Linked DNA regions of Homo sapiens. The protein of the gene in region 3 purifies or fractionates together with the protein of the main gene of each other region. This does not show direct contact. Each region holds a gene or a part of one and is shown on either strand. Other genes may lie near its edges.

Region 1 (7,989 bases), on a different chromosome or scaffold from region 3:
CAGGCACATGCAACTATGCCTGGCTAATTTTTGTATTTTTTGTAGAGACAGGGTTTCACCATGTTGGCCAGGTTGGTCTCAAACTCCTGCCTTCAGGTGATCTGCCCACCTCAGACTCCCAAAGTGCTGGGATTACAGGCGTGAGCCACCATGCCCGGCCTTTACTACAGTTTTCTTGGAATTTCCAGGGAGGGTGATGAATACAGCCAATAATAGCTTTGTTACAATTTCTTCCCTTTTTCCTAATTAAATATTCATCAGCAGGAACTTGAGTGTCAGTACAAACTCTTCTCAATCATGTCAAGAATTCAGGGACAATTGAAAAGGAGCTCTTTCTTTAAAACACTGCAAATTTCTTCAACAAACAAACCCAAATAAGTCTTCATAGGCCAATGCCTGTTTCTTTTGCTATTATGCTGGTTTATGTTGATAGAAATAACAGCAAAATTATTGCTTCCATACTTGTCAATGCTTAAAACATTGCTAAGTGTATCATTTTAACTAATTCCCTAAAGAATACTGTGAGTCAGACTCAATTAATTCCATTTTACAGACATGGCATAGGCAAACACAGGGTGTTAGGAAATATGGTATTAATAATTCTGAAATATAAAAGAAAAAGCAATAAGAAAGTAAACAATATTGTAGGGCCCACATATGACCATCATGTGACTTTTATTGTGAACCATGTTTTACACAAATCAATAAAAGGCACTGCAAAATGGAATGTACCCATTTAAAATAGCCTGAAATAATTTATTATCTGATTAGAATATTAACCCTTTCCCCCAAAGATTATCTTTTGCGGCTTTATTTCATGCCTATCCTCCCTAATACATAGAATGGTGCTGCATTCGTTCTTATAGAAAATCTTTCTAAACTAAAAATGCAAATCTCTGTTGTAGCTTGTCGTTATTGCCACTACTACTCCCTCATTCAAGCCATCAACATCTTTTCCAGGATGAATTTGATAATCCCTGAACTGGATTCATCATTTCCCTTCTTGTCCTTCTTTTCAGACCAAGCATGATCTCTTTAAAAAGTAAGTTGCATCATTTTCACCTCTGATTAGACAGCCAGTAGCTGCTCAAAATCAGAACCAAACCCAAATGCCTCAATTTGATCTGCATGACCCTACCTGACCTAATCTGACTTCACTGTAAATATGGCTTTCTCTACTTCTGTTCTCTCCCAAACACACACAGTTTATTTCAGACAAAGTGACCTGCTTTCTTTAAAATACCAAAATCACAACTTCCTCTCAAGGGTTGCATAGAAAATTCCTCCCTCTAGATGACTCAGAGCTTGTCCCCTCTCGTCACTTAGTTTTACCAAATATGTCACTTACTCAACAAGGCCTTCTGCGATTATAACTACGACTCCCAATTGCATTGTCCTCAGTCACATTACATTATTTTTCTTTCTTTTTAGCAAGGATGTTATTTATTTATTTGTTTGCTGTTTCTGTCTCCTCTTGCACTAAAGCCCTATCAGCCCAGTTACATTGTCTACCTTGTTCACTTGCTTCATTCCAACCACGTAAAATAGTGATTACCACTTATTTGCTCATCTTTGTCAAATGAGTGAATAAACACATGAGTGATCACCAACTATATGAGTTGCTTCAAGGATCATGTGATTCAGCAAGAAAAAAAAAATTTGAATGAAAAGCGAAGGTATGCTGAAAATGTAAAGAGCTTCTTGCTATTAGTAACTCATATTAAGCAATTAATATAATTAATAAAATAATAGGTATTTATGTAATGCAATACATGATACGATGTGTTTTCACAGACATTACACTCTGTGCACTCACAGAACGTTAGGGTCATAGCTATGTTTATCTTCTCAGAATGGGTCGGAGCAATTTTCTGTAAAACTCTGGTGGTGTTTTCATAGACACCCAGATGAAAATACACACAAGGTAAAACCCTCATGCCCTTCATTACTTTATGTTCTCCTAGCAATGAGAATAGCAAAGGAAGTCAAAATGTGCTAAGATGTTGGTTCTTTCACTGTCAAGATTAATTTCTAAATATTTGACAAGATCACTAGCAAGTGAAAATAGGAAGAAAACGTGCTAGGAGAAGGAACTGTAGAATTGAGTGTAATACAACAACGGACAAAGAAGAAGGTTTAAGTTCTGAATATCTGATATATTTAGTATATCTAAATTCAACATTTAGATTTAGATATTCTAAATGTTGATCATGTTGGATAGTCATCAAATTTTCTTGCAAATAAGATTAGTGTGCTGTTGTATTACAGGACATCAATATAGTGCTCCTGAACTGCTAGTCTTTGTGTTAGAAATGACATCAATACAAGGGCGCTCAGCAAGAGTGCCTGAATTCTGAGTTAGTAATTCCATCTACAAATCTGATGTAGTTATTATGCTTAATGAAAATCTCAAAAATATGGATGCCCAGTGGGCACAATCTGTAGTGCTTTCACCTGATGAGGCAAGAATCTCACTCACGAGGTGGTGTCATTATCACTGTACTTCCAGATCTTAGTCATGAAAAAAATGCCTTAAAAGTTAATAGAGTTGGATAAAGTGGAATATTTCAATAAAGCACACTTGCTATTCTAACATTTTTGTCCCAATAAAAATATACCATTAAAAGCTTTGGAAATGCACAAAATGTCTTAGATAATCTAAAAACTGAATCATTTTTAAATCTCTATAATATCTATTTTAGCAAAAGTTTAAGGTTCTAATTAGCTCAGCTACTTGATCTGAGCAGTAGTGGACAGAAGCTTCAATAAATTCTGACTATCAAAGTTCTCTTTCTTGGCATTGTTTTTCTTCCTTTCCTTACACATCCTAGTTTCAAAAGAAAACAGATGATTCTAAACACATTTCGGTTATCAGCATTACACCTACAGCTTTTCTTTCTCACAAATATCTTAAGATATGCTAGGAACACACAAAGCAACCATAACTAAGTTTCATTTCTCCCCAAAACTCATTGTTAGTTATCTTTTCTCATTTTAAGAAGAAAGGGCTAAGATGACAAATCGTCATTAAAGAAAAACTCAGCGGTAGAAAAATTCTTAAGGAATTATATATTCGTATTTCTAAAGTTAAGCAGTCTTGGAAATCTTGAAGGATGTCAATGCAATGTGGAAAAGTTAGGAAGGGATGTCCTATTGATTGCAAGAATAAAACAAGAGACGATAGGTGGTACCTTGATCTTACCTAAAGAAGAAACATATTCTTTTGACTAAAATGAGGTCATGTTTCAACAATACCTGTCTTTGGTCTGAAGGCTAAGCCAGTCAGGACAATGAGGTGTATGCAACTCAGGAAGAGATGTCTGACTGTTAATAAGAATGTATTGTGAGATGAAATGTAATGTCGGTATCTTAGCAAGGCAACATGATCTATCTTCTTCAAGAAGTTTTTTTTTTTTTTTGGTTATTTTTCTCTTAACAAAGTTGGAAGAAATTGTATATGAAAAGGTACTTTCTCAACTTCTGTAAAGGATATAGTTATAATATTATTCATGTTTAAATGGAAACTTTTAAATACACAAGCTTATATCTGAGAAACTTTTATATACGAGCTTATATTTGAGAAAAATAAGATTAAACAAATGGATCTGTGGTACAAATGTATTAATCAAAATTAATTTTCTTTCTTTTCTAAAGGTAAAGACACCTTTGAAAAGCGTTACGTATTTACAACTATTCTGCAATATTTAAGAAGAAATCCCAAATGTAGACAATACATCATTATTAAACAAATATGAGTAGAGTTATTGAACAACAGAAAAACATGTTTTTTTTAATTTTAATTTTAGATTTGGGGGTACATGTGAAGGTTTGTTACATAGGTAAACATGTGTAACAAGGGTTTGTTGATCATATTATCTTACCACCCAGGTGTTAAGCCCAGTGCCCAATAGTTATCCTTTCTGCTCCTCTTCTTCCTCCCACCCTCCCCCTTGAGTAGACCCCAATCATGTTGAGACATGATTATTTCCAAAATGAACATTACTCTTTTCCACTAAGGATACTTACAAATTTGAAGTAATAGGGAATAAGATCAACAAATGGGTATACTCATTTATTTATTCATGCCATTGCATTTTTAAAAATCATAATTGGGTACCTAATTGTAGACTAAAACTAAGTTAATGTGACTGCATATGAAAATTATTATAGTCATATTTAAAAGAGCATTTAATCCTGTTGTCCAATTTATGAATGATTTCCACTATATATATTCTTTATTGAGAGAAAATCTTTGAAATCACATTTTGGAATATATTTAAGTTTTTTTTAATGTTTCACAAAATGGAGAAATACAAATTCAGTTAAAAAGTAAAGACAAAAAGAAAAATAATAAATTTCCACTTTCAATATAGTAAATTCTCTTTGAGTACAAATGAATTCAGAATACTTATTTATTTTCTAATAGTGTTTTAAACTTGTATAATACCCCATTATATAAATATGTAGTTACTACCAAAAATATTTCATTTGCCTAGTATGAGAGACACAACAGCAAAAGCACATATGATTTGCTCTGCAAACTAGAAATATGTTGCATAATTCTTTCAGGGAAATATGTTGTTGTTATTGTTTCTTCATAGAATCTCAATTTAGGCTTTTCCTGCAAGACCAGTCTTACTTTTTTTTTTTACAGGATGTATGGCTATTATTTAATAGTTTTGATTTCCATTTAGTTACTAGTCAGTTTCATCAATTGGTTTAGTCAGGGAGCTCAGTCAAAATATGTGGGCTTGTATAGAGATAGCCTAAATAGAAAGGATGGAGAGAAAGAGAGATGGAGAGAGTGAGACTGACTCTACATTTTAATATCACTCAATTTAGAACAGAGCAATACATAATACATACTTTCTAACTTGGCCTTGTAATTATGCCAGGGGAAAAAGGGAGGCCATCTGATCATTTATGAAGAGGAAAATATAGATTTAAAATTGTGAGGGCAGATTATAGAAGACAAACAGAAAAAAAACAGCATATACATTTGGAAGATGTAAGCTTACTTGTTGTGCTGAATGGCAGAATCTCCTGAATCCTTCATTCTCCTTTCTCTAAAATAGAGGGTTCATATGTACTTGGTGAGATTGACATGTTATTCAAATGAGAGAGGACTGAAGAGCCAGAACAGAGATTCAATACTATTGCAAGTATAATACTTTTCAAAATTGAGTGAGTGAGGTAAAGACACTCATTCTGTGCCAGTGGAACTCACATATGGAAATTAGTCCAAAAACCAACTTTTAAAAACTCAAATTATTTTTAGAGATATTTTCATTTTTTGTCTTATTTACTGTTTAAATAATATTTTATCCCAAAAAACTAATAAGTTTTAAAAATCTCCATCCAAAATAAAATAACTGGAGAATGTTCCCAAGGCCTATAGACTATACAATTTGTGATTGCTCTGTTGCAATTTCATTTCTATGTCTCTAGACAATGGTTTGTGACACAGGTTAAATTTGGGAATAGCTATCCATGTGAAAATGTATAGCAACTCCACAGAAGAAAATAAAAAGCATCCCTTGACATTTTTCTGTTTGATTAGCTAATTTTCCCTACTCTCCCCCCTCCTCTGCCAAAACCAAAAGAAAAACCTTCTTATTTGACCTTTCTATGCATCAAGATAGTTTTGGTCATTATTCTTGGATTATATGGGGGAAGCCAGGTTTCTTGAAGAAATTTAAGAAAAGTTTTAAAACTATCTAAGGTAGACATAGATATTTTCTCATAGGAGTTTGGCTGAGCATATATTCTGATTAATTCATAATGGAACTCAGTCTTTGGCTTTATTTTCTTTAGCATTCTGCTACTAAATGTATTGCTTCAAATTATAAGCATTGGGTATACCATAATTATATTCATTTCAAAAGCAGATAATTTTGACACGTGTTTCTGCCACACAGTCAGATTCTGTTAAAACAAAATACTTGTTATATCGAAATGTATTAGAATATTATATGCTATGAGTCAAAAAATAACTTAAAATTTTTTTCATTTCACTTTTTTTTTTGTCCAGATAAATAGACATGTTTATCTGGAGTTTTCAAAAGCAAAAGTTTCATTCATAAAAACCATCACCAATTTTCAAGCCAGAGTGGTATTTTTAATGGCGTTTGTGCCAAGGAAAGCCATTTTAAAGCAGATATACAGACACACATAAACACACACAGAGAGAGATTAAAAACGGGGTTGGGGGCAATTGTATAGTTGGGTTCCACTTACTACTAACTTAGTTTGACGAATGATATCATGTTGGCACAGGCATGTTTAACTTTTAGGATTAATTCTACTTTCTTTGAATGCATCTATCTAGAATGAAGACAAGTGTTTCCTTTGTACAAGAATTGTTTTGACAGACAGCCACAGAAGATAGAGAAATCTATCAGTATGTTTGATTGGTACTTTTTACTACACAGAATTCCTATAACCAGGAAAATGCTGAAGGAAAGGGAGGGAGAGTTGCACATTTCACATTAAGATACAAAAATTAATGGCAGAAACATAAAAAACTGGATCCATATATAGAATGGAGAAAAGACATAAAGTTCCCTCAACATCATAATCCTTGTAGAAGACCAAGTCCTGTTCAGTTCAGGTGACTTTAAATGGAGCTGATTTTTATGGTATCCCCTGGGCTGAGAAAAGAAATTGACAAGGTAACTGGCAAGAAACTAATGTCCTGGATCCAATAGATTTGCAAACTAAGTATTTCTGCATACCTCCACCTTGAAAAACAAGCAGCATTTAGAAAGTGTCATCTAAGTCCTAAGAATACATTAACCATATCACTCATCTAGCACCCTTTCTAAGAAAATTTCCTTTACCTTCACTTACATTTTTAAAAAATCACTTCCATATTTGTAATTCTAGCACAGTTAATATTTAATTTTTCTGCAATATTCTCATGTCTCTCTCCATTCTTAGAGGTCTAATTATATTCAGATTCACACTGGTGGCACTTTCCTTAAATTATTTTTATACTGTAAATATTTTCATATAATGTTTTTAATAATGAGATAAAAACATTTTAAGAAATTATTTTGTCTAAAGATATTTTAACCTATTCAAGAAATACTGATTCAGATTCTGATGTATGGCAGAATCCATCCATCCATCCATCCATCCATCCATCCATCCATTCATCTTTTTCCTAAATTTATCTTCAGCTTTCTCTTAACTCCATTTTTCCTCCTGAATTCTGTTTTCTGCAATTCACATTCTTTCTTATTGTTTTAGCACATTTAAATTCTTTCTTTACCTTTTCCATTTTCTCTTTTCTCTCTCACTCAGTTTAAATTTGAGCTTGAGAAGAGAGAAAGAGAACAAATTCAAAGATTAGCAACCTCTTCAAAACAAAACTTTAATGTTATTTGTGGCATATGAAGAGACATAAATCGCAGTTCATTCTTCTTTGAGGGGAGATTAAAATTTTGATATACATTTAATTGCCATTGTTTGATGGTTTTCTATACAGATACATTAAAATGACTATAACAGCATGAACTTTAATTATTTGGAAATGTGTCTCCACATTGTATCATACTCGAGAATTTAACACAGACTAGCATTAGGCCTCTCAATCCCTTTTCAGAAAATTTGACACTTTAAGATATACTTCCTTTTAAGTTTTAATCCTTATCAAGCAATACTTTGATATGATATGACATTGTTATATGACAAATTAGTTGATTCTAAGTGAATCTGATTTATCTTCCAATTTTGGCTGTTAAGAGTTACAAAGATGTTTCCTTTTTAAGATGTGATAGAATGTAATAAAAACTTACATGTACATTAGTTTAGCTCTATATAGAATCAATATAAACTAATAAAATAAACAATAAGGAATTAAAAGACAAGTGCACGTATATGGTTTGAACATAAACATACGAGTTAGTTTCAAGCCTTGTTCTATTTAATACAATGTTTGAACTTATGAATGTATAAAGGAAAAACACAGCTAGAAGGTAATACAAA
Region 2 (7,989 bases), on a different chromosome or scaffold from region 3:
TGGGGTTTTGCCATGTTGGCCAGGCTGGTCTCAAACTCCTGACCTCACGTGATCCGCCTGCTTCAGCCTCCCAAAGTGCTGGGATTACAGGCGTAAGCCACCACGCTTGAACTATTTTTTTTTTTTTTTTGAGACGGAGTTTTGCCTAGGCTGAAGTACAATGGCGTGATCTCGGCTCACCGCAACCTCCACTTCCTGAGTTCAAGCAATTCTCCTGCCTCAGCCTCCCAAGTAGCTGGGATTACAGGCATGCGCCACCACGCCCGGCTAACTTTTGTATTTTTAGTAGAGATGGGGTTTCTCCATGTTGGTCAGGCTGGTCTCAAACTCCCAACCTCAGGTGATCTGCCCACCTCAGCCTCCCAAAGTGCTGGGATTACAGGCGTGAGCCACCGTGCCTGGCCTGTTTTTTTAACAATCTATAAAACATTTTGATATACTTATCCAGGTCAATCAGAATATTCTTAATACTAAGCAATCGAAACAAAACTCAGAAATAAACTAGATGCAAAGGCTGATGGAGAACTCTGTCATCCATAAATCTGATTCCCATGATCACAACCACCAACGTGGTCTCATTATTCTCACTGATTGAGCTCAATCATGAGCAAATGTTATATTTGAACCTATAAAATTGATATACATTAACAAATGTTTTCTATATTAGGGCTCCAACTAAGATTTCCCTGGAAGAAAAAGATGTCCTGCTGCCTAAGGTTTGCAAACCACTGGCCTATTCCTCCCACCGTTGCTGCGCATGTGGCATGGCTCTGCCCCTCTCCATGGGGCCTTGTTCCCTACCTGGGCTCTCCAGCCCAGTAGACACAACCTCCTCCACGTTGCTGCCGTTGAGGTTGGCACGGAGGATCCGGTCCAGGGTGACATCTGACCAGAAGACAAGCTCGCGGCGGTGGTGGAAATCAAGGGCAATGGCATTCTCCAGGTTGTTAAGCAGCAGTGTGTACTCAGAGCGGTGTGGCAGCACCTGCCGGATGTCGATGCGATTGGCGAACAGCAGCACAGGCTCTGGCCCTGGGAAACAGTATAAACATGGGATACCCACTGGGTTTCAGAGCCGCCCCTGGTACCCATCAGCAGGTCTTCAGCTGACCGATGGAGCCACTTGCTCACAAGGACATGCCCCAAGCTGTCAGCATCAGTACCAGAAGAGTGGCAACCTTTAAACTATATTCCTCCACCCCTCCCCACCCCACTCCACCCCAGCAGCATTTTTCTTGGGGCTCAGAATGCAACTGTTGCTGCATTTTACTGTGACAGAAATCTCTCTACCTCTCTGCAAATCCCTGAGCACCAGAGTACCTGGCCTTCCTCCATGCTCGGCCCTCTGCCCACCCAGCCAAGTGCCAACAGCCCTTACCCAGAGCCTTGCAGCTGCGCCGGTCGGGCCGTAGTTCATAGCCTGTTTCACACCAGCATTGGAAAGCCCCTTCGCTGTTGGTGCAGCCCTGGCTGCAATACCCCTCCTCGGCACATTCATTCACATCTGGGAACACCAGGCAGGTCAAGAGATCTCCCTTCTGTCGTCCTCCCACTCCCGCTCCCAGGCTGCCGAGCTGCTTTTCTGCCCACATCCCCATCTACTTTCCAGGCCTAGTGGGAAGGCTGTCTAAGAAATGGTTAAGGGCGGCCGGGCGTGGTGGCGCACACCTGTAGTCCCAGCTACTCAAGAGGCTGAGGCAGGAGAATGGCTTGAACCCAGGAGGCGGAGGCTGCAGTGAGCCGAGATCGCACCACTGCACTCCAGCCTGGGCGACAGAGCGAGGCTCCATCTCAAAAAAATAAAAATAAAAAATAAAAAAGAAGAAATGGTTAAGGGCTTTAAGGTCATGCAGACCTGGGCTGGAATCCCAACTCTGCTACTCGCCAGCTGTGTGGCCTTTGGTAAGCTACTTATCCTCTCTGTGCTTCAGTCTCCCCATCTGTGAAATGGGAAGGATGATCCCCACCTCCTAGGGTTATTGTGAGGACGAAATGAGGTCACACCGTTCAAATGCCTGACCCATAGGAAACACAGCTGCCTGTCTGCTGCCCCTGCTCAGAACCCCGACTCTGCTGCAAACCAGGCCCCAGCTCACCTTGGCACGTGTGCCCATCCTCTGTGAGCCGGTAGCCTGTGTGGCAGGTACACTGCACTGCCCCCCGCACCATCTGGCACTTCTGGGCACAGCCACCGTTGTTAACATTGCAGTTCTCCTCACCCGTCCGGGGCCCTGTGCCAGCCAAGCCAGAGTTGGGAGTTGAGCCCAGAATCCTCCCCCAGAGAGCCAACTTGGCATTCCACCTGGACCACAAAGAACAGCTCCCAAAGCTGCAAGAGTCCTGAGGGAGGATTCCCTTTGAACCCTATGGGTGGGGTTCGGCCACAAACCATGGGCCAGGTCCGCCCACTGGGGACACTCACGGCAATTCTGCTGTGGGCTTTCGTCGCTGTTGTCACCACAGTCGTTGACCCCGTTGCACAGCTTCCTCTGCCCAATGCAGCGCCCATTCCAACACAGGAACTGGTCCAAGGCACATTGGGGGCTTCCTAGAGAGATGGAGGGTCAGGTCATAGCAAGGCAGGGCTTGGGCCAACAAAGAGATGGGAGCCTGTCATTTTCTAGGGTAAGCTGGAGACAGATGAGACTCAAGGTGGGAGGGTGAGGGTCCTGGGCAGGAAGCAGCTCAGACAGGGCTGGCTGAATGTCTGCATTTGCTTTCTCCCCAGGACTCCACAGTGGGATGGTGAGGAATATGGAACAGAATGAAAAAGTGCAACCACATGCTCAATACTGGGTGTGGCCAGGGGAGCACACATGGGGGCTGCCAGATGGAGGGTAGTCCTTCCTCACTAGACCAGAGCTAAAGGCACTGGCTGTGTGTGAGTTAGAATAGGAGTGGCAATTGAAACTCGCAGCTCTGATACTGTGCTCCAGGCCATAAGGCCGCAGGTCAATGATGCACCTGGATTTTACACTGGTAAAACCTCAACCCAACTGGAAAGATACCAAAGCACCCTCTTTTCCACCCTTCCACCCCAACTATAGGCTAAGGGTTCTGGGGCACCCCGGGAGACACCACCTGTATTCTCACAGTTCTCTTCATCGCTGTTGTCTGCACAGTCGTCCTCCCCATCACAGCGCCAGGACAGGCGGACACAGCGGCCTGAGTGACAGCGGAACTGTTCTGCCGTACACATGGAGGTGGCTGGGCAAAGCAAAGGCTTAATGAAAGGTGGGCCCCATTTCAGCCTGAAATTCTCCCTGCCACCCAAATCTGCAGCTTATATCAGTACCCATGCCACTCTTGACACCGGGATCACAGCTGGTCTATATAGTGTCTTTGTGTGAATCAGAAAAAAGTATCCTTTCCTCAAGACACTTTACTGCCATCTGCTGGAAAACTGCCATGATGAGTATATAAATCTATTATGTGACTGGCTTCCCTTTGGACATATTGCCTCTGCACAGTGCACAACCTACACAACTGTACATGGTGGTGGTCTTACCCAGTGTCTTCAAGATTTATGGGTAGTGGCCTGTTTGTCTTTTTTTTTTTTTCTTTTTATTTTTTTATTTTTATTTTTTTTTATTTTTTAATTTTTTTATTATCATTCTTGGGTGTTTCTCGCAGAGGGGGATTTGGCAGGGTCATAGGACAATAGTGGAGGGAAGGTCAGCAGATAAACAAGTGAACAAAGGTCTCTGGTTTTCCTAGGCAGAGGACCCTGCGGCCTTCCGCAGTGTTTGTGTCCCTGGGTACTTGAGATTAGGGAGTGGTGATGACTCTTAACGAGCATGCGGCCTTCAAGCATCTGTTTAACAAAGCACATCTTGCACCGCCCTTAATCCATTTAACCCTGAGTGGACACAGCACATGTTTCAGAGAGCACAGGGTTGGGGGTAAGGTCACAGATCAACAGGATCCCAAGGCAGAAGAATTTTTCTTAGTACAGAACAAAATGAAAAGTCTCCCATGTATACTTCTTTCTACACAGACACGGCAACCATCCGATTTCTCAATCTTTTCCCCACCTTTCCCTCCTTTCTATTCCACAAAACCGCCATTGTCATCATGGCCCGTTCTCAATGAGCTGTTGGGTACACCTCCCAGACGGGGTGGTGGCCTGGCAGAGGGGCTCCTCACTTCCCAGTAGGGGCGGCCGGGCAGAGGCGCCCCTCACCTCCCGGACGGGGCGGCTGGCCGGGCGGGGGGCTGACCCCCCAACCTCCCTCCCGGACGGGGCGGCTGGCCGGGCGGGGGGCTGACCCCCCCACCTCCCTCCCGGACGGGGTGGCTGACCGGGCGGGGGGCTGACCCCCCCACCTCCCTCCTGGATGGGGCGGCTGGCCGGGCAGAGGGGCTCCTCACTTCCCAGTAGGGGCGGCCAGGCAGAGGCGCCCCTCACCTCCCGGATTGTCTTGTTTTTTGAGATGTCATCTCACTCTGCTACAGGGACGCCGTCTCGGGTCACTGCAACCTCTGCCTCCTAGGTTCAAGCGATTCTCCTGCCTCAGCCTCCCGAGTAGCTGGGATTACAGGCATGCGCCACCACACCCAGCTAAGTTTTGTATTTTTAGTAGAGATGGGGTTTAACCATGTTACCCAGGCTGGTCTTGAACTCCTGACCTCAAGCAATCCACCCACCTTGGTCTCCCAAAGTGCTGGCATTATAAGCATGAGCCACCGCGCCCAGCCGGTAGTGGCCTCTTTGGCTCCACAAGCCTTCTCCTTAGTTCAAGCCCAACCTAATTCCATTTCCCCACTCACTGCAGTTGCGCTCATCAGACTGGTCATCACAGTCCGCGTCACCATCGCAGCGCCAGCCTGCATTGATGCACAGGCCACTGTCACACATGAACTCCCCAGAGCGGCAGGGCTGGTGGGAGGCTAGGGAAACACAAGACTTCTGTCTCTAGCCAGTCTGTGCAGTGTCCCATGGCAGACTAGAAGGCCACAGCCCCAGAATCCCAGTTCCTCCATCTCTTCCCAAGAGGGACCAGAAAATCCAGAAACTCCTCTCTGAACTCCTGCCCCAGCTGGCGACTGTGCCTTGCCACCCAAGCAGTTCTTCCCAGCCTGGCCTCCCCACCTCCCAGCTGGCCAGAGTACTCACAGCAGTCAGACTCGTCTGACCAGTCTCCACAGTCATCGTCGCCATCGCAGTGGTAGATGTCGAGGATGCAGCGTCCATAGGCACACTGGAACTCCTCCAGGTTGCAGGGGGGCGCTGGCACTGCTGAGGCTGGAGGGAAGGCAGGGGTGGGGAGGGGCACACACTCAGGCCTGGATGAAGGAGAGGGGCCCTGATTCCTCAAGCAGGCAGGATGCTCAGGCAGGAGAGCTTCTTCAAGTGAGATGTAACCAGGTTTCATCTGGGACAGCCCTTATAGACGCCCATATTCAGGTGGACCAAAGGAAGCCTTCCCTTCCCACCTGGGGAACTTGCTCCCTCCCTAGCTCAGCCTAGGAGGAGCTGCTGCTGAGGCACCCATGCTCCTTGCCCTTGGTACATGCACTCCTCAGCCTCGCCCTTAGCCAATGGGCAGAACTGTCTGCCCTCATCCAACCCAACAGCCTGAGGTCTGGGGCCACTCACGACAGTTCTCCTCATCGGAGCCATCTTTGCAGTCGGTGTCACCGTCGCAGTACCAATGCTCAGCAATGCAGCTTCCGTCACTACAGCGGAACTCCTTGTCGGAGCACTTGCGCATGTCTGGGGGGATGCGATGGGACAGCAGTTCTGAGGGGGCCCCACAGGCAACCCTCTCACCCTCCTCTCTGACTCCCAACCTCACTGGCTTTGGCGGGTCTGACCTAGCCCCCGAAAGGCACCCCAGAGTCAGTGCAGACTCTCCAGGGAGAACGGAGGCCCTGGAGAGACTGGGCCTCAGCCTCCTGGTCCACAGTTTCTGGGGGGTCTGAGCGGCTCTGCCCCCTCTGCGTTCCTCTAGCTGCTCCAGATATCTGGGCAGTTGGAGGTTTGGCAGTGCTAGGGCCATTGCTGCTATCTTCTCCCATGGCCAGGCCACCCACTGGCCACCTTGCCTGCCTTCCCCCGTTGGGGTCACCCACCACACTGCTCATCGCTGTTGTCGCCACAGTCATTGTCACCATCGCAGTGCCACAGACTCCGGATGCAGTAGCCATTCTGGCAGGGAAACTCGTCCTCCTCACACTCCCGGGGGGCTGTGGGCACAGAGCAGTCAGGCTGCTGCAGGCAGTGGGGGTCTGGTGCCTGGAAGCCTGACTTAAAGCCCTCCGGAGCAGTCAAGTAGCTCCAGTGCTGCCCTGAGGGCTCCGAAGGAGGTGGCTGCCTCTCAGCAGCTTATCTGACTTCGAGAGGAAGTGAAAGGACAGGACAAAGTGCTGAAAACACAAGGGCTCATGTGGACCTGGGGCATTGCTTTCTGATTGAAAATCCTTTCCCAGTGGAACTCAATGGAGTTCCGCCCAGCCTCTGCCAACACTCACGACAGTCCTGCTCATCCGAGTCATCCTCACAGTCGTTGTCCCCGTCACACACCCAGGAGCGGCGGATGCACTTGCCATTGTCACAGTGAAAGTCAAGAGGGGAACAGGTAGGTAGTACTGAATCCCAGGAAAAGAAAAGAAAAGTCAATCAACCTGGTATTCTTACTCAGGCTCAACTAGGCCAGATAGCCTTTTGCTCCAAATCCCCTTGTCTTTTTTTCTTTTTTTGAGACCGAGTCTTACTCTGTCACCCAGGTTGGAGTACAGTGGCGCAATCTTGGCTCACTGCAACCTCTGCCTCCTGGTTCAGGCGATTCTGACTCAGCCTCCCAAGTAGCTGGGATTACAGGCATGCTTCACCACACCTGGCTAGGTTTTTTTGGTTTTTGTTTTTGTTTTTTGCATTTTTAGTAGAGACAGGGTTTTGTCGTGTTGGCCAGGCTGGTCTCAAACCCCCGACCTCAGGTGATCTGCCTGCCTCAGCCTCCCAAAGTGCTGGGATTACAGGCATGAGCCATGGCGCCTGGCCTTTTTTTTTTTTTTGAAACAGAGTCTGACTCTGTCACCCAGGCTGGAGTGCAGTGGTATGATCTCGGCTCACTGCAACCACCGCCTCCTGGGTTCAAGGAATTCTCATGCCTCAGCCTCCCGAGTAGCTGGTGTTACAGGTGCCCGCTGCCACACCCAGCTATCTTTTTTTTTGTGTGTATTTTTAGTAGAGGTGGGTTTTCGCCATGTTGGCCAGGCCAGTCTCGAACTCCTGGCCTCAAGAGATCCACCTGCCTTGGCCTCCCAAACTGTTGGGATTACAGGCGTGAGCCACCACACCCAGCCCCCTTGTCTGTTTTATAGTCCTTCCTTACTGACTCCTAGGCCCATCCCCAGCTGATGGAGAAGCTAAGCAGAAACTGCAGCTAAGACAGAGATTCAAAAGGTAATTGTGGTGAGGGGTTCACAGGGTAGGGGAAGAACAACCCAAAGAACTCACAGGAGCTAAGAAAACATAAGAAAAACATGAGCAAGAGAAAGAAGCGCCTTTTTCCCCTCCTTTCCTCTTGTTAAATGATGATTGACACACCCGGGCTCAATTTCCAGTTCATTACGTAACACTCTGAGCAAGTCATTTACCCTCTCTGAGCTGAAGTCTTTTTGGCTGTACAATGGGGATAATTATACTCAGTTCATAGAGGCCTTTTGATATAATGCCTATGAAAATGCTACATGAAAGTGAAGCATTTATCATCAACACAATTAGCTGAACTGGTTAGGGTTAATGAGGTCCAGGTTGTACCTCCGTTCCCATTAGACTAATTAGCCACCCTCAGACATAGATGCTACAGGTAGGTCAGAGATTGCGCCTCTAATCCAGACTATTGGCTTAGCAGGGATATTTCTATATATCCAAGACAGGTCACCCTGGCCAACTGTGCAGATGTTACCATGCTAGGGGAAAAGGGAGACTTAAGGAAAATATAAGTTTTTTTTTTTTTAGACGGAGTCTCGCTCTGTCGCCCA
Region 3 (7,989 bases):
CAGGAGATCGAGACCATCCTGGCTAACATGGTGAAACACCATCTCTACTAAAAATACAAAAAAATTAGCCAGACATGGTGGCGGGCGCCTGTAGTCCCAGCTACTCGGGAGGCTGAGGCAGGAGAATGGCAAGAACCCAGGAGTTGGAGCTTGCAGTGAGCTGAGATTGCGCCACTGCACTCCAGCCTGGGTGACAGAGCGAGACTCCGTCTCAAAAAAAAAAAAAATACAGGGCTCAGGTGAGCTTCCCTGATTCGCTGTACCCTCTACGTCACACCTTAATTCTGGGAATTTAACGCATCCTACTCTATGGGGAGAATACAATACAAGATCCTCATTTGGTACTTCCCAGAACTGTTTCTTATTTTTCTCTTGGTGAAATGTAATGTGCATCTCTACCCTGTAAATATCCGTAACTTTTAGTATAAAAGCATTCAGTGAGTTCTGCTTATCTTTCTAGGTAATTACTGAATGTGAAGGTAGTTTTGGGAAATCCCCACACTTGCAGTTGGTGTGAAGTGAGAGCGATCTTCTGTAAACTCTTGCTCTAAACTGTGCAGCCAGTTAAACTCTTCACAATAATATCAAAGGCCTAGGAGTGTTTATATCTACATATTCATAATATTCCTACACAAGAATTTGGCATAACATGTATCTTTAATTTTATTTTTCTGTAGATGTGAACAATAATTTGGTTAACTGAGATAGGTAAGAAACAGACAACCAGTTTTGATGGGAATCTGAAAGGTTGGACCTGACAGGGGTAAAGAAAGGGTGATGCTCCTGATGAGACAATGAAAGGTGGTGAGAACACTTGGGATAAAAAGAATGCCTGAGGGGTCATGCCCTGGGTTGGTTCCATGTGGGGATATTAGACTCTCATTAAAATAAAAAAGACCAGAGGCTAGGCACAGTGGCTCATGTCTGTAATCTCAGCACTTTGAGAGGCCAAGGCGGGCAGATTGCTTGAGCCCAGGAGTTGGTGACCAGCCTGATTAACATGGTGAAACCCTGTCTCTACTAAAAATACAAAAATTAGCCAGGTGTGGTGGTGCACACCTATAATCCCAGCTACGTGGGAGGCCGAGGTATGAGAATCATGTGAACTCAGGAGGCAGAGGTTGCTGTGAGCTGAGATCATGCCAATGCTCTCCAGCATGGGTGACAGAGTGAGACCCTGTCTCAAAAAAATAAAAAAAGAAGAAAAAAGAGGGCAGAAAATATATGATATAGATAAATACTCCTTTATACTTATTTCCAAATGGAAGAATATAGACAAAAAGTGAGCTATAAAATAAATTTAAAACCTTCTAATGAGCATTTAGAAAAAAAGAACTAGAAAAGAAATGATCACATCTTCATGACAAGCAAGAAAGGTATCATTTCATGAAATGCCTACTGAAGTAACCCATAGACATCTACATGCATGAAAAATGTTTGTCCTGGTTATGGTGAAAGATGTGTTTCTTACTATGACTCACAATCATAAAAATGTTGACAACTTTGGTCAGGATATTACCAAGTCCTAAATTAAGTCAGTCAAATGGAAAGTTAACTTCCAAGGTTGAATCTTGGAAAAACAGTAATAGGTAAATATGTACCCAATGGTACACGCTGGAATATGGATATATTTAACACACTGTTACTTAAGAGGTTTTTGGGGAGAAGAGAGAGTCTCTTTCAGGATGTCAGTATTTTGAGAGGGCAGTTTCCTGATTCCTTCCAAGTTATAAAGTTGAAAATAGAGCACTAGGTCTCTAAAAAATAAAGGAAAAATTATGTTGTAAAATCTGTATTCTTTTATGTTTTTAACAATTAAATCTGTATACAATGAAGGTGCAGAAATATACATATTTTTGAACAAAGATGACCAGAAATATAGGCAATGTTTAGCTGCATGAATTGTGTTGCTCTCTTCCTCATTCTTCCCCACCCAGGAGAAGAAGAAACCTGGGGTCAGTGACGTGCATGCAGACTTTGGAAAGGCAAATGGGCTGCAGATGGGTAAATCTCTCAAAGGAAAGCTAGCTGGGAAGCTGGTTATTATCTGACACATCACAAAATGGAGAATTTTTTCCCCTTGTAGAAGAGCTGTCTCACTAGTAGACATCAGAATGTTCATTCAAAAATGATTTCTTTCCAGAAATGAATATGCTTCCTATGAAAAGCTCCAGGATAAGTCATATGGAAGGCATATAGCTCAGTATGGTAATAAATAGAATGCTTAGAAGTTTCCATGGGATGTGGGTCCACCGTAAACACACAAGGCAATCAAATAACGGAATCTAAGAACATTGTAATTAAATACATGGCCATTGGAAGACAAAAAACATGTTCTGCAATATCTCTCTTTCACCGTAGTTTGTGTTTCACTTATTAGTTCTCTCCATAATTTCAGGAGACAGTGAAGTCACCCCATTCATTAGCTCATATATCAGGTTAACAAAAATTTGGAAACCTGCCATGTACCAGGACCATTCTAGGCACTGAAAATACAGCCACGAAGAGTTAAAATTCCTTAGACATTATAGTCCAGCATGTAGAAGTGACAGATAAACAGAAGTATGTGAGACTTGGTACAAGAGAGCACAAGAAGAATCAAAATAGAATGGAATTATAAAGAGAGTGGTTTAGGATGGCTTCTCTCATGACTTTAAAACTGAAAAGAAACTTGAATAACTGAAGGAGATGCCAGAAGGTTTTGAGGTGACAGAGTATCCCAGTGACTGAGATGAGCAAGTAAGGGCTGAGACAGAAGCTTCTGTAGAGACAGAATAATGGTTCCTAAAAGATGTCCACATCCAGTCCCCAGGACTTATGATCACGTTGTTATACAGCAGGGGAACAGAGGTTGTAGATGCAATTAAGGTTGCTAGTCAGTTAACCAGAGAACAGAAAGATCATCCTGGATTATCCAGGAGTGATCAAAACAATTACAAGGGACCCAAAAGGTGAAAGAGGAAGGCATAAGAAGAGTGGCAGAGGGAGCATGACTATGGGGATGCAAGTTGCTGCCTTTGAAGATGGAGGAAGGGAAGCAAGAGCCAAGGAGTATGGACAGTGCCTAGACACTGATAAACTAAAGTAAAGGCTTCTCCCCAAGAGCATCCAGAAAACATGAAGCCCTACAGACAACTTGATAATTGCCCAGTGAGATGTATCAGACTTCATCCCTAAAGAACACAAAAATAATAAATGTTTGTCTCTCAGTCTGCTCAGTCTGTGGTCACTGGGTACCAGCAAAAGGCAACACAGTGCCCTTGGGAGGACAGAGAAACAGCAGGGAGAATAAAGTGGCTGGTAAAGACAGAGCAAGAAGGAGAGGACAGGAGATGTAGTTAGAGAGGTGGCAGGGAGGGGATGAAGAGCAGATCACAGGGTCTCTAAAAGTCAATTAAAGAGGTTGTAACTTTAATAAAAATAAGCCAAACAGGCTTTTGAGCTGAGGAATGGCAATCTGACTTACATTTCCTAAGGATCACTTTGGCTGCTATGAGAACAGATGTCAGGATGTGAAGGCGGGTGGCAGGGCCACCAGGTGTAAGATGGTTGTCAATAATCCAAGAAAGAGGTTTGGCCATTTAGGCCAGGGCAATGGATTTGAGCATGGACAGAAGTGAAACAGGTGGAAGAGACATACAGGGATTCACAGTTGCTTGATTCTTACCTGAATTCCCTTCCCTTTGGATTGCTGTCTTCATCATCCAAATCTTTTCTTCCCTTAGGAAGTGGAAAGTATCCCTGTGGAATGCTTGATGTCCTGCAAACAGGCAAACTTACATGCTTAATCCCAACACATTCTAGGTAATATCAAGGTAAAGTTTACCAGAAATTTAGGTTCTTACTGCACACTCAAACTTGAACCATAGGTTCAAGTTACTAATTAAGACTTGAAACTTTGTACCCTAGGATACAAAGCCACCTCTGGGGCCTGACGTTCTGTTACAGAGGGTGCCTGTCCTCACCCACTGAGAGCAGGTTCCTGAAGTTCTCCAGCATCACATCTCGATACAGCTTCCTCTGAGCAAGGTCCAGCAGCCCCAGCTCTTCCTCAGTGAAGACCACAGCCACGTCCTTGAAGGTCATTGCCTCCTATAGCATCAAACATATGCAATCTCAGTCTCATGACCAATGATTCCTGGGAGAGGGGTGGCACTGAGCAGACAGAGGGGAGGGGTGGGAAGTTGTTTTGGATCTTGAGAGACATAGGTCAACTCGTAGATTTCCTACTCATTCTGTCTGTATCCTGACAATGACTGATTTCCCTGAGTTCCACCAGAAACACAAAGATGAAAAAGACTTCCTGTATTTTTACTTCGTGCAATCATTGAGTCTTCTTGTAAGTAACCCTCTAGGACTCTAAATGTGGCATCCTGGGCTACACATATATATGTTTTGATAAATCTTGACAATCACCCTCAGCAACATTTAGCAATTCAGTCCTGACTTTGTTTGATAATGCCCATTGTCTTCCTCTCTCAAACTCGAACCCTGGATGTTATTGTTTTTCTTCAACATTTGCCAAACTGACAAGCTTATGGTGACATGTTTGAGTAGTTATGCAGTGAGTCCTCTATACTCTCCAGGCAAAAACTACATACATTAATTGCAACACTGAATGTCATGATCTGCAGCCAGCGTGCCTCAGAGCGCATATATAAGGCTCTGTCCCTTCCCAGTCATGTGACCTTGGACAAGTTGGCCTGAATGCATTACTTTCCTCTCTATATAATGATCGTCACATGATATAGTTTTCAAATTAAACAGTGGAATATACGTATGTTACTGGGGAAAAGTGTGTAGCAAGACTGAATACTTAATAAACATTAGCTATTTTTATTTTTGTCAATTATTGTCGATTTTATCTCATGTCTGCATAGTGTTCCATGGAACTAATCTATTGTTATTCTAAATAATGAATATTTAATTTTATATCTTTTCCATGATTACCAATCCAATAAAGAACATTTCAGGTAGATCTTACTCTCCTATTTAAAGTAAGTTTTAAATAACAAAATGTCAGAAATTTAATATTATGATTATGTCATGTTTTCTCAATTTTTTTTTTTACCTAACTTCAAAATCTTTCAAGGGGATACATTATTCTGGTTTTTCTTAACATAGCCAAAAGCAAGTTATCAATTTTCCCATTACTTTGGTAATCTGATTAGGAAGAAATTGTTTTTTTCTTTTTTTTCTTTTTGTAGAGATAGAGTCTTGCTATGTTTCCCAGGATGGTCTTGAGCTCCTGGTTTCAAACAATCCTCCTTCCTAAGCCTCCTAAAGTGCCAGGATTATAGGTGTGAGTCACAGGCCTGGCCATGATTTTGTTTTATTATTCTCACTTATTTGATTATAAATGAATACCACCATCTTTTCAAATATTTATTGACATCTGTTTTTCTCCTTCTATACATTCCTGGTAATGTCCTTTATTTGTATTTCTTTGGATTTTCTTCCCTGGTCTGGGCATAAGATTCTTATTTTGGATTGTATCTTGTTTTAGATATCCAAATGGTAAATATTTTCACCTTAGACTGTTACATTTTCTGGTTTGTGTAAGGCATCTTTTCCCATAATGAATTTTAAAATGTTCTATAACAATTGTGGTAATTGCCGTCCTTGGGTGCCTGAAGTGCTGGGGGCCATGGAAGAGGTACTACGACAGGAAGAGAAGATGCCCCCCTCCCAAGGTAGGTCCAGGGAGGAGCGATGCCACCTGTGGACATCATCACTCAACAGGACACTCCAGACACCCACACCACAGGGCACAGTTCCCTCAATGGAGAATTCTCTCTTTCTTTTTCTCTCTCTTTCAACTGAGTAAAAAGGCTAAAATAACTAATATTCTGGACCCTTGGTCTCCTGTCTGAACCTGAGCAGGTTTCTCATATTTCATGTGTTTAAGAGGAAGATAAGAACAGCCTCATTCAGCTGTTCTGAGGAGTAAATGAAGAAACAAAACACAAGTGACTGGCAAATTTTCTAGTATCATGCACAAAAAATTTAGGTTAGGCTGGGCGCGGTGGCTCACGCCTGTAATTCCAGCACTTTGGAAGGCCGAGGCAGGTGGATCACCTGAGGTCGGGAGTTCGAGACCAGCCTGACCAACATGGAGAAACCCTGTCTCTACTAAAAATACAAAATTAGGCATGGTGACGCATGCCTGTAACCCCAGCCACTCAGGAGGCTGAGACAGGAGAATCCCTCGAACCTGGGAGGCAGAGGCTGCAGTGAGCCGAGATCGCACCATTGCACTCCAGCCTGGGCAACAAGAGTGAAACTCCATCTCAAAAAAAAAAAAATTAGCTTACATATTACTTTGGTCAAATTCCTTAGTATATAAAGGAGTAAAGAAAGGCCAGTAAGTAAAAGACATAGAAGGCATGACTCAGGCATGGGGGAAAGAGAATCTAGCTCTTCCTGTGTGGAAACTTCCAGCAATCCTTGTGTGAAGCCACAGTTACAGCCTGCCATGATGTGCCACATATGGATACTCTATCTACAAAACAGCCAACGTGGCACACATCAAAAGTAGCCTTTCAAAACTGAGTTCCTGGTGTCTGGAAGTATAAAGTAATTAAAAAGGAACATCGATTAAATGGGAATATGGTGCAACCATTAAAAATGAACATTATATAATATTAAATACAAAGAGTGCAATTTAAATTAGATTAACATCACCAATACAAATACAGTTATGAATGCACATGAGGAAGAGTATCACAGGATAAAAATAGCTAATGTGTGAGCAGAGAAGTAGTATAATGAAATAATTATCCATTCCTACAATCTTGTCTACTCCATAGAATAAATGATAGAAGAAAACAAGTAGTAAAAACAAATGCAAAATCCACTCAAAAGTAACAAAGGAAGTACATGGTACACAAGAGATCCTCAAATGTCTGTTTTTCTCCTTGAGTCTTCCCAAGACAGAGGAAAACTTGTGACAATTTAAGTACTGAGAGGGAATTTTAAGAGTAATAGAAGCAAGTCCTACCCACCTTGAACGTGGTCATTTTCCCTCTTACTTCTGGAAACTTGCAGAGTCCTGAGTGATGCAGTTCCTGGGAAAGCAGAATTGTGCCTGCAAAGTGCCAGGAAAGGCAGAAAAAGAGACATGAAAAGGTGGCCAGGGATGCCACCCACCAACAGGGATGTGTATTGTGAATTGGCACATGACTGTTCACAGCAGCATTAATCATAAAAACCCAAAACGGCACAACCAAAATGCCCTCCTGTGGGTAAATGAATAGACAAATCATGGTCTATCCATACAATGGAATCTTACTTGGAAATTTAAAGAAATGAAGTACTGACTCATGCTACAACATACATGAACCTTTGAAACATTATTGCTAAATGAAAGAAGCCAGTTAAAAAAGACCACATATTGCAGGATTCCATTTCTATAAAATGTCTGGGTAGGAAAATGCATAGAGAAAACTGATTAGTGATTGCTTCAGATCTGAGTGAGAATGAAGTCTAACCATAAGTAGGCAGGAGGAAATCAATATGAGCATGAAATGATCACCGAATTGTGGTGATGGTTACTCCATTCAGCAAACTGTCTAATGATCACTGGATGTACACCTGATATAAGTAAGTTATATGATACAATAGGTTGGAAAAAATAATTGTTAATGTACACGTTATCTAACTTAAGAGTCAATTCTAAGGCCATATTGATAGAATATTTGTAGTTGAACAAAGAATAAATGGAGAAGGTCATTTTACAGCTGAATGCCCACTAATAATGTTATCTATTCCTAAGAAACTTTATTCTTTTCAATTTTTTTTAAGTAACTTTATAGTGGAGAAATCTGAAAGACAGCGTCTCGGCCAAGTGGACAAGGTTGAGATCACCAATGAAGAGACAAACTGACATCACTTGGACCCTGTTATGTTGCAATGAAAAGGACATTTCAGCACTTCTGTGGTATCCCTACCAACAATGCATAATCTGAACCCGCAATTCACCACTTCTGT
Region 4 (7,989 bases), on a different chromosome or scaffold from region 3:
AGAAGATAACTCCCTGAGGACAGGTCCTTCATCTGTTTTACATATCCCCATATTTTTAACATCTGGAGCAGTGCCCGAGTCATGGTAGGACCTCCATGAATGTTCACAGAATTCCATCTTGGGCTTCTGAGACTATTACAGTAGTGGTTCTCAAACCTTTCTCTAATTCTTGAATACACGTTTATTTGTCATGAGCTTCCCCCCACCATGGCAAACCAATTTCAGCTCAGTATATAATAGAATTCTGAAATGCAATGATCTTCCTGGAGAATGGGGGATTATAGTTTGTGAAAAGCCTCATAAGTGGTTTTGATAGTTCCCTTCTATTGACAATTTTTTATCAGGATTGTTTTTGAATAAGTAGTGAACTGAAGTCTGTACCTCCATCCTAGAGACTCGTGCAAAGAAGTCTTAATTCTTCTTTCTCATGAAAACTCATCAGTGGAGAACACTTGTCAGAGTGGTCTGCATGTCTTCTCACCACCTCCCCCATCCTTGTATCTTTTCACCTCTAGGAAAATATCCCTGGATCCTTTATCCATTCCTCTTGACCATCCTGGTTGCTCTCATGGGAACATTATCCAGTTTCTCTACCTATATCTCAAAGTGTGGTTGTTTATGTTAGGAGGAAGGAGAAGAGGGAGGGGGTCGAGGTCAAGAGGTGACCCATGACCACATGCCTGGGTCTGAAGTGGGGCGTATGAAGCTTCCTTGCTCAGGTCACAATGCTCATATCACCTTTAACATAACTTTGTTACTTGTGTGTACACTCTCTTTATTTCCTCAGGGCTTAGTTTCAGGAAGGGACTATTATCATCCTTGCTTTAAAATTAAACTATAAACAAAATTCCTTCCATAGTTAGCTTGGCCTACGTGCAGAGATAGGCAGAGGCCGTTAACCTACAAGATGTCACCATGGGCAGGGGGCAGGGTGCGGGGAGCAGAATGGAGCCACTCATGTTCAGCCTCCTTTTGTCTGTTATAATTTCCCCATTTTCAAAGCCAGTGATGTTGCATGTCTCTCACCTGTCTTCTGTATTCTCTCTGTCTCTCACCACAACCAGAAAAGGGTCTCTGCTTTTAAGGACCCATGTCATTAGACAGAGCCCACCTGGATAATCCAGGCTGAACTCTCCTACCTATGGGTCCTTAATCTAATCACACCTGCAAAGTTGCTTTGTTACATAAGGTAACATATTACAGGTTCCAGGGATTAGGATGTGGACGTCTTTGACTTGGAGGAGCAAGATTGATTTTAGACCCTCATCACTGGTGGGATTGGATTTCTGATGTAGCCCTTCCTTGTCCAGGACTGGGCAGGCAGGTGTGAATCTGTATAAGGAAGGCCTCAAGTTACTGTTCCTGGGCTCAACCAGCTACATAGCAGATTTGTACCACCCAGGTACACAGCCTGCATAGCAGATTTGCTGTCTACAGCCATTCTCACCTTTTCTCTTTTCAGGAGCATTTGCAATTATACGGTCATTGCTTTCTTTTTGGAGCCTCCCGTGCAGTTTTAATCTACTTTCAGAACTGGAGAGCACATCACATTTTGGTCAATAGCCTAGACATACAGTTGCATAACCCTTAACTTACCAGTGCTCATTATTTGCATTATTTCATTTTCTGTTCAAGTACTTTGAAAAGCCAAACAACTTTAAATACTACATAAAGTATGCATGCCTCTTAATATTGTTGGGATTCATCTCATTGTTATTTCTGTTACTCAAACCAGAAATCAGCTCCTCTTTCTAGATTGCAAACTAATAATAGTAGCAGAATAATTAATAGTACTATAGAGTAATAGCTACAGTTTGTTGATGCCGGCCAGGAGCCAGGCAGTGTTCCAGGTGTGTGATCTCATTAGATCCTTGCAGACATGATAGTGATGGAATTGTTACTTCCATTTTTTATAGGGCAACTGAACTCAGGTGATATTAAGCTGTTTGCTCAAGCTCATGCAGATCTAGGATTTAAACTCTAGTTTGTTTGACTCCAAAGTGCTCACTCTTCCCGAATGCAGATTCCAGTTGTTAATGTTAGATGAGATGGCACCTTAGTGCCGGTATAGATTCCACCACTGGTCATTCCAGAGGTGTGTTTTGAAGCAGAAGCCAATTAGTACTTTGCCTAAATGGGAATAAACTTGGGCCCAGCCTTTAGTACCATACGGCCCCTCCCCGTGGACTTAAGAAGCCTCTCTGTGTTTCAGCCACACACAGCACCTTGACTTGCATGAGCAGGGAGTTCCAGTGCGAGGACGGGGAGGCCTGCATTGTGCTCTCGGAGCGCTGCGACGGCTTCCTGGACTGCTCGGACGAGAGCGATGAAAAGGCCTGCAGTGGTGAGTGCCGGTCCACGGGCTGGGCTGGGCTGGGCTGGGCTGGGAGGCTCGCTTACCCCAGGGCCCCTCCTGTGTAGACCTTGAGCTAGGACCCTTTTGAACTGTTGCTCAATCTAAGGATAAAACAGATTTGTGCCTAGTTTTGGAGCCCCAAGTGAGGTGAGCCTTGGCCAGACTCTGATACAACATGCAGCTGTCTCCTCCCTGTTAGTGAAATGCTAGTCTTGGATTTTTTTTTTTTTATGGACTTCCCACCTCATGCCCATACACCATGGCTCTCACAGTCTCAATCTGCTGGTGGGATTAACTCAGTTCTTATCTCTGGAGTGTCTAGTAATGGACCCTATGACATGGTCCTTGGACTTGTAGCATTCTCTATGGAGAAATAGGCTTAAATTGTCATAGGCAGGAGGAAGATGAAATTCGAGGGAAAATATCACGACCGGAAAAGTAGGAGACCCTAGGAGGGATTGTATAGGGAGGTTTCAACTACATTTTCTGAGATTTCTTTTCAGATAATGATTATGGCCTCCTGATAATCTAGATCATGGTAGTTCTGTTTAAAAGCAGGAGTCCTTTGAAATCTAAGGATTTGTAAGATGTAACTTTTTTTTTTTTGTATTTTTAGTAGAGACGGGGTTTAGCCACATTGCCCAGGCCAGTCTCGAACTCCTGAGCTCAGGCAATTTGCCCGCCTCGGCCTCCCAAAGTGCTAGGATTACAGGCGTGAGCCACCACGCCCAGCCAAGATGTAACTTTGTTTGTCTTTTTCTCCTTTATCTCTCTAGATGAGTTGACTGTGTACAAAGTACAGAATCTTCAGTGGACAGCTGACTTCTCTGGGGATGTGACTTTGACCTGGATGAGGCCCAAAAAAATGCCCTCTGCTTCTTGTGTATATAATGTCTACTACAGGTAGGTCCCATCTTTGTCATGGGAGATGAAAATGATGTCTTCATTGCCCCAGGATGTTCTGTAAACTCTCTAGTGGCATGCACCATGCTATTAACGGAGTCAGACATCTCAGCCCCCCATGCTGCTCCAGTGTGACAATATCTTTATTTTTTTTTGGGCCAGGGTGGTTGGAGAGAGCATATGGAAGACTCTGGAGACCCACAGCAATAAGACAAACACTGTATTAAAAGTCTTGAAACCAGATACCACGTATCAGGTTAAAGTACAGGTTCAGTGTCTCAGCAAGGCACACAACACCAATGACTTTGTGACCCTGAGGACCCCAGAGGGATGTAAGTGTTTCAGTTAATTTTTATGGCATGGGTAAGACCTCAGGTCGGGGTTTGTGAGGGTCTTTCTGAGTATTCTCAGGAATGTGGGAACATATGTGTGCCTCACATGTACAGAAGTATGGTGGCTAAGCTTTATAGTCTTGCCAGAGTTGTCAAACATCTGTTCTTCTTACTGCATCAGAGACTGTTCTTGTACCTTAAGTTAATTTAAGATTCTCTCCACCATTGCCCTCTTGCATTTTTTGTCTAGTTTCTACCTCTACGTTCCTCCTCTAGATATTTCCTAGTACTTGGTACTTAGGAGGAGGTCATCGTCATTAAAATATGAGGCATATCAGCAATTTTGTGGCTAAGTTTTTTTCTTTTTGGAGACAAGGTCTCACTCTGACACCCACACTGGAGTGCAGTGGAGGCGCAATCACTGCTCACCACCTCAGTCTTCCCAGGCTCAGGTGGTCCTCCCGCCTCAGCCTCTCGCATAGCTGAGACTATAGGTGTGTGCCACCATGCTCAGCTAGCTTTTTGTATTTTTGTACAGAAAGGGTTTTGCCGTGTTACCTAGGCTGGTCTTGAGCTACTGAGCTCAAGCAATCCACCTACTTCAGCCTCCCAAAATGTTGGGATTACAGGTGTGAGCCACTGCACCTGGCTTTGTGGCTAAGTTTTTAAGAAATTTACCAAATTTATGTGTCTAAGAGAGTTCCTCGCCTCCTCCCTACTTCAAAGTAGTTGACATGAGCAACTGTCTGCTTGAATGTCATCTTTTTTCATTGCCTAAAGTATCCTGAATATGCTAGCGCTAAACTCATTAAGGAGCCTGCTTTGAAGATGATCAAATTCATTTGGATATAGAAATTCTGTGATGTTACAAAATTAGTCTTATTTTTTGGTAGTCATGCCCACAGTACAGTTTTTGTTGTACAAGAAGCAGAGGCAGCAGGTGCTGTCATTGACAATTAAGATCTCAGCATGGAAGTCTCAGGGTCAGTGGTGACTCAGCCTGCCCAAGTGATTCTATCCTGCAGCCCTTATGAGCCACAAATTTACCACACACTCAACTGAGCCATGATGTGATGTGTGGACGGCACACCTTGCTTTTTGGAAGAAGAGGAAAAGTGTCTTTTCAATGTGACGACCAAGCTAGCAGCCTTTCTAGTGGATAGTCTCAATGCCGGCTGTGGAGTCGTTCTTGTCCTTGTTCTAAGCCCAGGAAAATTCCTCTGGTTGGCTGCTATGCAGATGGGTTTTAACCTTGAGTTGACTCTTTTTCTAGTGCCAGATGCCCCTCGAAATCTCCAGCTGTCACTCCCCAGGGAAGCAGAAGGTGTGATTGTAGGCCACTGGGCTCCTCCCATCCACACCCATGGCCTCATCCGTGAGTACATTGTAAGTACCTTCCATGAGTTGGCTGTATGTGTGTTGGGGGTGCTAGGAGATTTCTGGGTATTCTGTATGACGAGGGGGTTGATTTGGTTTAGCTTTGTAGGTGATGACCCATCCGTCAGAACATTTTGCTCCTCACCATCTTTTCTCTCCTCCAGCCTCCTTGCAAGATATTAGGATGCCCTGGACCTTTGGTTCCCTTTACTCACATTTTTTTTCTTCTCCCTTTAGGTAGAATACAGCAGGAGTGGTTCCAAGATGTGGGCCTCCCAGAGGGCTGCTAGTAACTTTACAGAAATCAAGAACTTATTGGTCAACACTCTATACACCGTCAGAGTGAGTGTCGTCATCCATTCCAGCCATCCATGCAGTCTTAGAACTGAGCGAAATTGCTGCTGTTTTGTGAGAACTCTCTACTCACCTTTGTGAGATGCATATTAGTAATCTGCAAAATACCCAACTTCTTGCCCTGGGACGGGGGAGCTCAGAGTTTCTTTCAGTCTCTTAAATGGACACCACAAAGAGCTTGACATCAGAGTTTCTGTAGATAACCGGGCGTTTATGGGAATGCCGCTTTCCCTGCTTTTAACTCCGGTATTCTGCTAGCTTTCCAGCTCCTATACTTTTGCAGTCAGCTCTTTCCTGCTTATCTTTAGCTGCAGGATGATGCAGAGCTATGATAAGTAGTCTTTCTAAACTGATTTTATGAGGTTCTTATGAAATATATTTTTAGTATTTTTAGCAGAAAGAGATAGATTTTGTGAACAACATGTTTGCTGAGACCATTAAGTGTGCACATTCATGACTCTCACACTGATAATTTTGTCAGTACCCTTTTTGTATATGTGTGTATTTATGAACACACCCCCCCATACACCTGCCCTTTAGAAGAACCTTGATATTTGTGGATCAATAGAAATTTTCTGATCTCAGGACTGTCATAATGCCCTTTACCCAAGCTCCTTCCCTTGGCTTTTTTGCCCTCTTATTTCAGATGCTGGGGCCTCTGAATATTCTGGATCACTCTGTATAAAATTTTTCCAGCCTCACTGCCAAAATCTCACCCCTTTAGCTCATTCAGTATTCTTACTGTATGGTGTATGGTGTATTGCCTTTATTTCATATTAATTCACCCTCTGATTTGAAAAGGTGGCTGCGGTGACTAGTCGTGGAATAGGAAACTGGAGCGATTCTAAATCCATTACCACCATAAAAGGAAAAGGTAAATGATCCCAGCATTTGCAGATTTAGAGAAAATATTATACAAACCCTTTCAAATGACTTTCAGTATGACCGGAAAATGGAGAAACGTAGTTTAGAAAAACATCACACAACTTTCTTCTCCCCAACACACGCACATTTTTGGGTGTCTCTGTAGTGCTTTAGATAGAGTCTTTTTGGGGTGACTGAGTGTCTTTTTCCTCCTAGTATTGAGCATTTCTTCTAATGCAGACATACAAAGGGATTTCCAAAGGCCATCATGCGCAGCCCTTTGTGAGTAGTCAAAATATCTAAAATAGAAGGAGTCCTTCCTTCTCACCAAAGCTGAAGATGATTTTGTGCATGTTCACTTACGGGGTTTTAAAGAAAGCACCATGCTGACTCTTGTTATTCTCCCAGTGGCACTGGCAAACTGTGTGTAGGTGGTTTTTTATCTTGTACTAGAGCTGATATTAGTAATAACTGATGGCTTGCCAAGGGCAGGACACTCTAGAGTGTTCACTGCTTTGCGTACATCAGCTCATCTAATTGAACAGTCAGAACAACTACAAGAAAGGATAAGGAACTGGAATGAGGTTATGTCACTTGTCCCAGGCCACACAATCAGTAAGTGACAGAGCTGGCCCTGGAACCTGATCTGCCTGACTCCAAAGCCTGTGCTCTTAACCACTGTGCTCCACGCTTCTCTCTGGGCTGAGACACATGCGGCCTACTGGACCGCCCTGCTTGCCGGGGGTGGCGGGCTCAGCATCTTGCACGAGTGCCTCATGAGGGCAGAGATCTGGTCTGTTTTTCTCTACTCTATCACGGGCATCTAGTAGAGACTAAGGAAATAATTGATGATTGAGTGAATCGAAGCAGTTAAATGAAGGGTTCTGGCATACTTTGGGAGATGGACTACAACTCATTTTCCAGAGTGGTTTTCCTGACCTTAGCCTTGACACTGGGGACTTGCATTTCTGGACTTCCAGGTATTAAAACCAGATGGACACTGTGGCATGCAATAGGACTGGAAGATTTTACTTTAACCTAAGCCTGTGAGGAATAGGCTCTGGGTCATGGAGAGTCACTATCTAGTCCCCTCTAAAATCTGGAGCCTTTGAGATCAGGGCCCAAGGCGGCCAAACGTAGTGCCACCAGATGGTCTTTGGAGCTGAATGCTTGCAGGTATTAGAGAAAGCCTGCTGAATTCACACTCTCCTAGAATTTTTATTGTTGTATCTCTTCTCTCTACAAAGTCTGTTTCAAAACACTGACCACACATACCAAGAAGGGATGTTGGAAGAGCAACCAAATACATGTACCTTGAATTCCGAAGGCACAAGTCACAACTGCATTTGAAAATCTCAGTGGATGGTTGGTTCTCTTTAACTTCTTTTCTGTGATTTTGATGAATCTCAGCTGCTTGCATATATTTGGGCTAGGATTTGTACAGAAGGCAGCTGTGTGCCACATCCAAAAAGTGTTTGTTGTAAAATATCTGTGACATAGTATCATAATAACGTTTTAAGATAAAGGACAAAGACAGCAGAGGCATCAGCCAGACGCGCCAGGTTAATTGGTGAATGTAGTGGATTAGTAATGACAATGAGAAAAGCCACCATTCCCTGAGCACTTCTTATACACTAAGCACCATGCTATTGTTGCTCGTGAATGGATCCCTTATTAATCCTTATGAATCCTATGAGATAAGTATCCTTATCCTCATTGTGTAGCTGAGGAAATGGGTTTGGAGTGGATTGTGACTTGTCCCTGGTTGCCATGATTATAATTCAAGTCAGCTTTACCATATGC

The links.
Region 1: the proteins of ZNF224 (region 3) and LRP1B purify together in Homo sapiens (affinity purification with mass spectrometry; 2 studies listed by BioGRID and IntAct, with this or other methods). This does not show direct contact.
Region 2: the proteins of ZNF224 (region 3) and LRP4 purify together in Homo sapiens (affinity purification with mass spectrometry; 2 studies listed by BioGRID and IntAct, with this or other methods). This does not show direct contact.
Region 4: the proteins of ZNF224 (region 3) and SORL1 purify together in Homo sapiens (affinity purification with mass spectrometry; 2 studies listed by BioGRID and IntAct, with this or other methods). This does not show direct contact.

The regions. Positions count from the first base shown.
Region 1 is NC_000002.12:142,120,252-142,128,240, forward strand, and holds part of LRP1B (low-density lipoprotein receptor-related protein 1B precursor), read right to left. Parts: intron 1-7,989. UniProt on the Homo sapiens protein: Potential cell surface proteins that bind and internalize ligands in the process of receptor-mediated endocytosis.
Region 2 is NC_000011.10:46,893,788-46,901,776, forward strand, and holds part of LRP4 (low-density lipoprotein receptor-related protein 4 precursor), read right to left. Parts: intron 6,592-7,989; coding exon 6,475-6,591; intron 6,190-6,474; coding exon 6,076-6,189; intron 5,717-6,075; coding exon 5,600-5,716; intron 5,246-5,599; coding exon 5,117-5,245; intron 4,891-5,116; coding exon 4,771-4,890; intron 4,518-4,770; exon of another isoform or gene 4,409-4,517; intron 3,208-4,408; coding exon 3,082-3,207; intron 2,549-3,081; coding exon 2,423-2,548; intron 2,232-2,422; coding exon 2,097-2,231; intron 1,505-2,096; coding exon 1,379-1,504; intron 1,033-1,378; coding exon 802-1,032; intron 1-801. UniProt on the Homo sapiens protein: Mediates SOST-dependent inhibition of bone formation. Functions as a specific facilitator of SOST-mediated inhibition of Wnt signaling.
Region 3 is NC_000019.10:44,096,904-44,104,892, reverse strand, and holds part of ZNF224 (zinc finger protein 224), read right to left. Parts: intron 7,088-7,989; 5' UTR 7,020-7,087; coding exon 7,005-7,019; intron 4,093-7,004; coding exon 3,966-4,092; intron 3,761-3,965; coding exon 3,668-3,760; intron 1-3,667.
Region 4 is NC_000011.10:121,601,981-121,609,969, forward strand, and holds part of SORL1 (sortilin-related receptor preproprotein), read left to right. Parts: intron 1-2,212; coding exon 2,213-2,344; intron 2,345-3,132; coding exon 3,133-3,259; intron 3,260-3,421; coding exon 3,422-3,591; intron 3,592-4,864; coding exon 4,865-4,977; intron 4,978-5,205; coding exon 5,206-5,310; intron 5,311-6,123; coding exon 6,124-6,196; intron 6,197-7,989. UniProt on the Homo sapiens protein: Sorting receptor that directs several proteins to their correct location within the cell. Along with AP-1 complex, involved Golgi apparatus - endosome sorting.